Linked DNA regions of Homo sapiens. The protein of the gene in region 2 purifies or fractionates together with the protein of the main gene of each other region. This does not show direct contact. Each region holds a gene or a part of one and is shown on either strand. Other genes may lie near its edges.

Evidence for each region.
Region 1: the proteins of FCRL3 (region 2) and MAP4K3 purify together in Homo sapiens (affinity purification with mass spectrometry; one large-scale study listed by BioGRID and IntAct). This does not show direct contact.

What each region holds. Positions count from the first base shown.
Region 1 is NC_000002.12:39,325,287-39,329,755, forward strand, and holds part of MAP4K3 (mitogen-activated protein kinase kinase kinase kinase 3), read right to left. Parts: intron 992-4,469; coding exon 860-991; intron 676-859; coding exon 613-675; intron 526-612; coding exon 444-525; intron 343-443; coding exon 232-342; intron 1-231. UniProt on the Homo sapiens protein: Serine/threonine kinase that plays a role in the response to environmental stress. Appears to act upstream of the JUN N-terminal pathway.
Region 2 is NC_000001.11:157,683,770-157,688,715, forward strand, and holds part of FCRL3 (Fc receptor-like protein 3 isoform 1 precursor), read right to left. Parts: intron 1-4,946. UniProt on the Homo sapiens protein: Promotes TLR9-induced B-cell proliferation, activation and survival but inhibits antibody production and suppresses plasma cell differentiation. Enhances activation of NF-kappa-B and MAPK signaling pathways in TLR9 stimulated B-cells.

The DNA of each region.
Region 1 (4,469 bases), on a different chromosome or scaffold from region 2:
TGCCTTTGCCATTTTCACACTATAGTCACCTATAAGTAGTCAGTAAGAAAAACCTAGCATTTGACTTTCCATGAAAGGCAAAGACAAAGAATTAATTGTTCCCTCAAGAGCTTTTTTATTTAAACTAGGCCCCAAAATTAAAAAAATGGATTTTGAGACGTACATACAGACACACATATATACATACACATATACATGTTATATATGCCCGCTGGTAAAAGCAATTCCTACCTCAGGATCATCATCATCGAAATCATGGTAAGTGGAATGATCTGGATTATTTACTTTATCCAACAGCTCGATTGCCAAAGACCGTGTCAAATGTTGTGTTACAAAAGGATGCTATAAAAATTAAATACAATGCAGAACACTTACTATAAATCTGATTGAATAACATTTTATCTTTTGAAATATATATATATATTTCAGGGCAAAAATAATACCTGTAATAATTTTTCAGCAGTAGGTCTTTTTTTCGGATTTTTGGTAAGTGCCATTTTCACAAAGTGATGAAAACTATTTGACCTAAGAAATTTAGAAAATTAGACTTTTACATTCCAATTCATTTTTTGCTCATCTCACCATAAAAGTAAATAACATAAAAATACTTACCATTTCATTTTATCCTTTAGTTTAGGAGGCTGAAAATTGCTTTTTGTCATTAGAAATAATGCTCTGAAAAATCAACAAATCATTACACAGCATTTTAATATTTCACATTTTTATCTATTACACAAATTCTATTACTATTTGTTCCCCAAATAAGGTAAAACAAGACTAAGAAAATTACTTGTTCATGACAGCATACTAAGAGGATAAAAACCTTAAGCGTAAGATTCTTCAATGATGATGCACTGACCTCATTGGGTGTAAGTCAAACATAGGAGGCTGAAGCTCTGCAAGTTCTATGGCAGTGATTCCCACTGCCCAGAGATCACAGAGTTGATTGTAACCCCCCTTCCTCTCAACAGCTGCAACTTCTGGAGCCATCCTGAAATAAATATTCCAGAAAATAAAAAACTTCTGTTATATGTTTTCCTTTATACTCCCACCCAGAGGCACAAGGAATTATCACTATCTAAATTAAGGCCTCTTTAGGCCTTGGTTTTTGAAAAATAAATATGCAGTACTTAAAAGGTCCACCTTTTCCAAGATCTTGACATCTCATAAGACCCTCATTAGTAACTTGCTTTTGATTATACAGGCTTATAGGTGGAAGGGACTTGCCTTGCCTTGCCTCAGACGAGACTTTGGATTTGGACTTCTGGGTTAATGCTGGAATGAGTTAAGACTTTGGGGGACTGTTGGGAAGGCATGACTGGTTTTGAAATGTAAAAAGGACCTGCAATTTGGGGGGTGGGCAGGGGCAGAATGATATGGTTTGGCTCTGTGTCCCCACCCAAATCTCATCTCGAACTGTAATCCCCATGTGTTGAGGGAGGGGCCTCGTAGGAGGTGATTGGATCATTGGGTCAGTTTCCCCTATGCTTTTCTCATGATAGTGAGCAGGTTCTCACAAGGTCTGATGGTTTTAAAAGTGGCCGTTTCCCGAGTGCTCTCTCCTGCCACCTTGTGAAGAAGGTGCCCGCTTTTTTGCCTTACTCCATGATTGTAAGTTTTCTGAGGCCTCCCCAGCCATGCAATACAATACTGTGAGTCAATCAAACCTTTGTTTATAAATTTTAAAAAAGACTCTGCACTTCAGTCCCCTATTGCTGATTCCATTGTTACTTCCTTATACTAGTTACTAAAAAGGTTTATAAAAATATACAATTCTAATAGACCAACACGTCCAAAATCATTCATGCTCCCAATCTCTCTGTACATGCAAAATTCAATAAATAATATTCGTAATAAGCAACCTATAGCTCTACTTCCTGTTATCAAAAAACTGCGACCAGGCAATCCCTGTTTTTACTTCACCAAAACTATTCCGTCGGGCACCAATAATCTTCATATTTAGTATTTAATTCATATTTACTAAAAACTTATTTGGCATTTTTTCTAGTTCTATTATAATAATGGAAAAGTTATAAAAACAAGTGTCTACTTTTAAAAAATGTATTTATTCAGAGGAAAGTTACCCAAATTCAGTAATTTTTTTGTTTCTCTTTACTTTGCTACAGTCTTATTCTAATTATACTTCCATAAATTTGAATTTGACTGATTTAAACTATTAATTATCAAATACAAAAATTTTCAAATCCTAAACAATATTTTTAAAAGCAACTAATTGAAATAAACATCTCAACTCTTCCATACTAAAGAGCAGTCTAGATAATCTTACAAATACACATTTATCTTCCTGGTATGATTTCAGGAAGGTCAAGTAAGTCAGTAAAGTCAAAAACAAAAAACCCTCTAACTTTCAAAACCCCTGGTCTTAAAATCTTTTAAATCTGAAACAGATCTTATGAAAATTTAAATTACTATAAGAAAAGCGAATTTCAAAGTGTCAGTTATTACTTTTATGATGACTAGATTCCAAGTAGCTGGTAGAAATGCCCTAGTGGAGTGGGAAATGCATGCAAGTGATACGCTCCTAACTTGCCTCCCCTTACTAGTTCACCACATTAGCTGATGCTCTCCCTTCTTCTATGTAAATACAAGGGAAACATTACACTTAGTACATGTCTACTCCAGCCAGCTAAGTTGTGTGCTTATCACAGTCAACTGGGTTCATCTCTGAAACTGTTTATTCCAGTTACATTTGCTATTGTAAACACATAGTTATAATGAAGGTTTAAAAGTTAGCGAATGCTGGCCGGGAGCAGTGGCTCACGCCTGTAATCCTAGCACTTTGGGAGGCCGAGGCAGGTGGATGGTTTGAGCTCAGGAGTTTGAGACCAGCCTGGGCAACATGGCAAAACCCCGTCTCTACCAAAAATGCAAAAATTAGCTGGGCATGGTGGCGCATGCCTGTGGTTCTAGTTACTTGGGAGGCTGAGGTGGGACGATCGCTTGAGCCTGGGAAGTAGAGGTTGCAGTGAGCTGAGATCACACGACTGCACTTCAGCCTGGGTGACAGAGTGAGACCCCATCTCAAAAACCAAAAACAAAAACAAACAAAAATTAGTGAATGCTTTAGAAAGACTTCGCTTTTAGAAAGGCAAATTTCTAAAGATGAGCCAAAAAACCTGGTACGTTAGATAAGAACATGACAATGGCAGAAAACTGGGAAGGCTACAGATTATATGATTCCATTTCTATGCCACTCAAGAAAAAGGCACAAATATAGAGACAGAAATCAGATCAGGGGTTACCAGATGCTACGGATGGAGGTAGAGCATTTACTAAAAAGGGGCAAAATAAAAGATTTTTTGGATAGTGTCAATGTGTTCTGGTGGTTTCTTACCACCACAGCATACAAGTTTTTCAACATTCATACAACTGTATGAATTTGCACAACTGTACACCTAATAAGGGTAAATTTATGCCTCAATAAACCTGACTAAGAAATGTAGTTGATGCATTGGGGTGTGTGTGGTTTGCATTACTAAAATGGAACTCTAGTAAGTGATCTACTCTAAGAAAAGGCCTTGATTCTATATCAAAAGACTGTTGAATAAATGTACATATATGTCTTAAATTGAAATAAAATGTTTAAGGTACATATGTGTTTAATTTTGAGAACTGTCATTTCAAGCAGACTTTTTCGAACAACTGAATAACTGCCGATCTAATCACTTGGGAAGAGAGAGGTTCTAAAGTTTTAGATTTTAGGTAGGAAAGATATAATACCAGAAAGACAGATACAGGGAGAGTGTTCCCAAAATTAACTTTACCTAATTCACAATTTCACATGTTCCCAAGATATTTCCCACATTATTCCAAGAGTAATGACATAAATTTTTAACCTGTGAAACTGGAGTTGGAAATTTCATCATTAACATTCAGTGAATGAATATTGTATAGAATCAAGTCAGATCCTGAAGATTTAATGAGATGTTTACAATAAAACTGAGAAGACAGTGTACTTAAAAATGACAGCAATTCAAGCCCTCACTCTGCTCAACCCAAAACAATAAAGAGAAGAACAAAGAGAAATATATACACATACCATCTTTGAAAAGTCCAGCAGACATATTTTAACTAAAACCATAACACACAGACTAAAAACAGAAGAATAGTAAATGATGTAGCAAACAGGAGGCAGGGCAAACCTAAGCAGGTGCCAAGGAAAAGAACAACAACTAGCAGCCAATGAGCCTCAAATACCCTGGAAATGTTGACAAGCTAGGTTTAAAAAGTAGCAATAGTAGGGTTGAGGTTGGGCTGGAAACAGGAGTATTAGAAAGTGTCAACAGTCAGTCCCTGGCATTCCTACTCTTATCCATTAAGCCCCAGCAACTATTGCCCCCCAATTCCCACTGGATAAGGACCAAGACGAAGAAGAGAGACTGCAGACTCAAGAGACACCAGGAACCAAGGAGTGAAGAGGTTAAAGGGAGAGGACATGATTAAGTAGA
Region 2 (4,946 bases):
AATGGCTTTTCCACACCTCTTCTCTCCTTCTCTTTCACTTGGCTAGCTCCGATTTATCTTTCTTCCAGAGCTGTCCCTGATGCCAACAGGCTGGATTAAGTAAACTGTCTCCATGCACATAAGACCATGTAATATTAAAATTACTATATTGTTTCGTAATTATTTATTTCTATTTGCCTCTATTTCTCTCTTTCATGAAAGGGTGTGCTACTTGAGGCTGTAAACCTCATCTTAAATTTTTTTGTATTCCTAATATCATGCTTAGCAGTTAAAAATATTCAACAAAGATGTGTTAAACAACTGAACAAAGTATTTACTTTGAGGACTTAAAAATAACAAATTGACAATTTTCTAAAAGGAGATTGCCTGTTAGAAGTCTATCCTTGAAGCCAAATCTATCAGACTTAAAAATATGGCAAGTTTCCGTCATCACCGAAATATTGAATCTTTCAGGCTTGCCCCAATACAAGCCTTATCCAGGTTCCCATCCTTGTCCTTTGCCTTTTTAAAATCTGTGGCTCTAATCGGTCTCATTGGCTTAGAGAATGCAAGTCGTTGCTCAAAATAAACATACCAGCCTTGACTCTCATGAAAAATAACTGAGTAACTCCCTGTTCCTCAGGGAGTGGGACTCCTGAGTTAAGCTAGAGGGGTATGATCAGGATCTGGTCCTGAATCTCCTCAGAGCAATCACAATCCACATCAGTCAATAACCAGTATCTTTTCTGTGGGTGGTTAGCTCCGACCTAGAATGCATCTGGGAGTCAGTCTATCTCCTTATCTGTAAAAGAGAAAACTGAGACCTAGACAGGTGGCTATTTATTATACAAGCTAATATTCCTTGAAGACATATGGGCCAGCACGGTGCTAAGCAGTTTACCTAGGTTGTGTCATAGTACCTAAAAGGTAGATACTGTTATTATTATAACCACTTCATAGATGAAGAAACTGAGTTTAGTGAGTTTAACTTATTTGCCCAATATCAAGTTGGCAAGTTTTGTTACTGGAATTTCAACACAGCCAGATTTACTATAGAGTCAAAAAACCTATCATTCCTTTTAGGAGTGATTCACTCAGGCAAGGAGCAGAGCCCTTAACTTTTAGAAAAATGTAGAAGGTCTGAGCTTCTTCCTGAGAAGTCTTGTCAATGGTGAGAAGGGAGACTTTGCTATGAGGAGGTACAATAAGCAAGATTTTGAGAAAAGAAGAGCACAGACCCTCTGCTTGGTGAACTGTCCTAATTCCTTAGTGAGTTTGTTATTTAAAATAACACTTCCCCTAAGTCTGGGGGACAGACCACCTGGGCTTCTGTTCACATGGATCATGTGAAATGATTGTCAGTTTTCTCTCCTGGTGCTGTGCTGACTGACAACCTCAACACTGAGATTCAAATGTCTTCTTTTAGTATGTTATAGATTAGAAAATGGCATCCCAGATAAACAATGAGAGGAAAAAAAGAAAAGTAATTTTGGAAGTAGGAGGTGTGACTAGCCTTCTATAAGTAATATAATTTCACTTGAAAACAGCAATAAGTTGAAGATGTATACTATAAGCCCTAAAGCAATCACCAGAGTAACAAAACAAATAATTATTGCTTCCAACAAGAAAACTTAACTATTCTAAATATATATGCACCCAACATTGCAGCACCCAGAATCATAAAACAAGTTCCTCTTGATCTACAAAAAAACCTGGACAGTCACACAATAATAGTGGGAGATTTCAATATCCCACTGACAGAGTTAGACAGATCATCGAGGCAGAAAACTGACAAAGAAACTCTGGACTTTGTCAGAAAACTGACAAAGAAACTTGACACTTGACCAAATAGACCTAACACACATCTACAGAATATTCTATCCGGCAACTATGGAATATACATTCTTCTCACCTGCATGTGGAACATATCCTAGGATCAGCCATATGCTGGGCCATAAAGCAGATATCAATAAATTTTTTTAAAAAATCATACCAAGTACACTCTTAGACTACAGTGCAATAAAAATAGAAATAAATATCAAGAAGATCTCTCAAAACTAACAAATACATGGAAATTAGACAACTTACTCCTGAATAACTCCTGGGTAAAGATAAAAATTAATGCATAAATAAAAAAATTTTTTTTAATTAATGAAAAAGGGACACAACTATGCATGTCCACTATCACTACGCCTATTCAAGATAGTCCTGAAATTCCTAGCCAGAGCAACCAGGCAAGAGAAAGAAATAAAAAGCACCCAAATAGCTAAATAAGTCACACTTTCTCTTTTCACTGACTGCATGACTCTCTAACTTGAAAGCCCTCAAGACTCTGCCAAGAGTAAGGTTTCAGGACACAAAATTAAGGTACAAAAACCAGTAGCATTTCTATACATCAACAAAGTCAGGCAAAGAGTTAAATCAATGGTACAATTCCATTTTGAATAGCCACAAAGAAAATGAAATACCTAGGAATACAGCTAACAAAGGAGGTGAAAGATCTCTGCGAGAAATTAAAAAAAAAAATGCTGAAATAAAGACAACACAAATAAATGGAAAAATATTGCATGCTCATAGATTGGAAGAATTAATATTGTTAAAATGGCCATACTGCCCAAAGAAATTTACAGATTCAATATTATTCCTATCAAATTACCAATATCATTCTTCACAGAATTAGAAAAATCTATTTTAAAATTCATATGGAACCAAAAAAGAGCCCAAATAGCCAAAGCATTCCTAAGCAAAGACAGCAAAGCTGAAGGCATCACACCTCACAACTTCAAACTATACTATAAGCCTACAGTAATCAAAATAGTATAGTACTGATACAAAAACAGACACATAGACCAACGGAATGGAATAGAAAACTCAGAAATAAAGATTCACACCTACAACCATCTGATCTTTGCCAAGGCTAACAAAAAGAAGCAATGGGGAAATGACTGTCTATTCAATAAATGGTGCTGGGATAACTTGCTAGCCATATTCAGAAAACTGAAACTAGACCCCTACTTTTCACCATATACAAAACTTAATTCAGGATGGATCAAAGATTTAAATGTAGGACTCCAAACTATAAAATTCCTAGAGGAAAACCTAGGAAATACAATCCTTGACATCAGCTTTGGCCAAGAATTTTTGGCTAAGTTCCCAAAGCAATTGCAACAAAAACAAAAATTGACAAGTGTGACTTAATTAAACTAAAGAGCTTCTGCACGGCAAAAGAAATTATCAACAGAGTAAACAGGCAACCTATAGAATGGGAGAAAATATTAGGAAACTATGCATCTGACAGAAGTCTAATGTTGAGACCTGTAAGGAACTTAAACAAATCAACAAGCAAAAACCAAATAACCCCATTAAAATATAAGTGAAGGACATGAACAGCCACTTCTCAAAAGAAGTCAAGCAAGCAGCCAACAAACATAAAAAAATGCTCAACATCACTAATCTCCAGAGAAATGGAAATCAAAACCACCATCAGATACTATCTCACACCAGTCAGAATGGCTATTACTTAAAAGTCAGAAAACAATAGGTGCTGGTGAGGCTGAGGAGAAAAGGGAATGCTTATACACTGTTGGTGGGAATTTAAGTTAGTTTAACCACTGTGGAAAGGGGTTTGGAGATTTCTCAAAGAACTTATAATAGAGCTACCATTCAACCTAGTAATTCTGTTATTGGTATACGCTCACAAAAAAATAAATCATTCTGTCAAAAAGACACATGCACTCATATGTTCATTGCCATACTATTCACAATAGCAAAGATATGGTATCAATCTAGGTGCCCACCAGTGGTAGACTGGATAAAGAAAATGTGGTACATATACACCATGGAATACTACGCAGACATAAAAAAATGAAATCATGTCTTTTGCAGCAACATAGATTTAACTGGAGGCCATAATCATAAACCAACTAACACAAGAACAGAAAACCAAATACCACATGTTCTCACTTATAAGTGGGACCTAAACATTGAGCAAACATGGACATAAACATGGGAACAACAGACACTGTGGACTACTAGATGGGGGAGATGGGGAGGAATGTGTGAGTTGAAAAACTACCTATTGGGTACTATGCTTACTATCTGGGTGACAGGATCTGTACCCCAAATCTCAATATCATGCAATATAACCATGTAACCAATCCACACATTTACCCCTTACATCTAAAATAAAAGTTGAAAATTTTTAAAAAGTTATGGCTATTATACTAACAAAGGAAGTAAAATAGAATTAAAAAATCAATTATTCCAAAAATAAGTCAAAGTAAAGCAAAAAATAGATGTGACAAATAGAAAGCAAATAGCAAAATAGACATGAAACCTAATCATATCAATAATTACACTAGTGCAAATGGTCTAAACACCTCATTTTAAAGGCAGACTACAATATTAAACTAAACAAAACCGGCAAGAATTAGCTGCATGCTATCTATTAAAAATTAACTTTAAATATAGGGGTACAAATAGGCTAAAAGCAAAAGGATGGAAAAAAATCACATGCTAACACTAATTATATTAACATATTAATATTAGACAAAGACTGTTTCACAGTAAGTGATTCAACCAGGGATACAGAGGGTCATTTCATAAGGATAAAGTGGATAATTCATCAAAAACATGAAAATTCTTAACACTTATCCACCTAATAATGAGCAATTCCAAATTCTGGAAGCAAAACTTGATAGAATTGCAGAAGAAATGGATAAATTCACAATTACAGTTAAAGATTTTAATTCCCCTATCTCAGTAATTGATAGATCAGGTAGACAAAAAATCAGTAAGGATATAGAGGAATTGAGAAACATTATCAATCAAATTCACTGGCAGGCAGTCATACTGTAAGAAATGTTAAAAAAAAAAAAAAGGTCCTTCAGGCAGAACAAAATTGATACCAGGTGAAAATATGGCTATATAAAAAGGAATGAAAAATTCTGGAAGTGGTAACTGAGTAA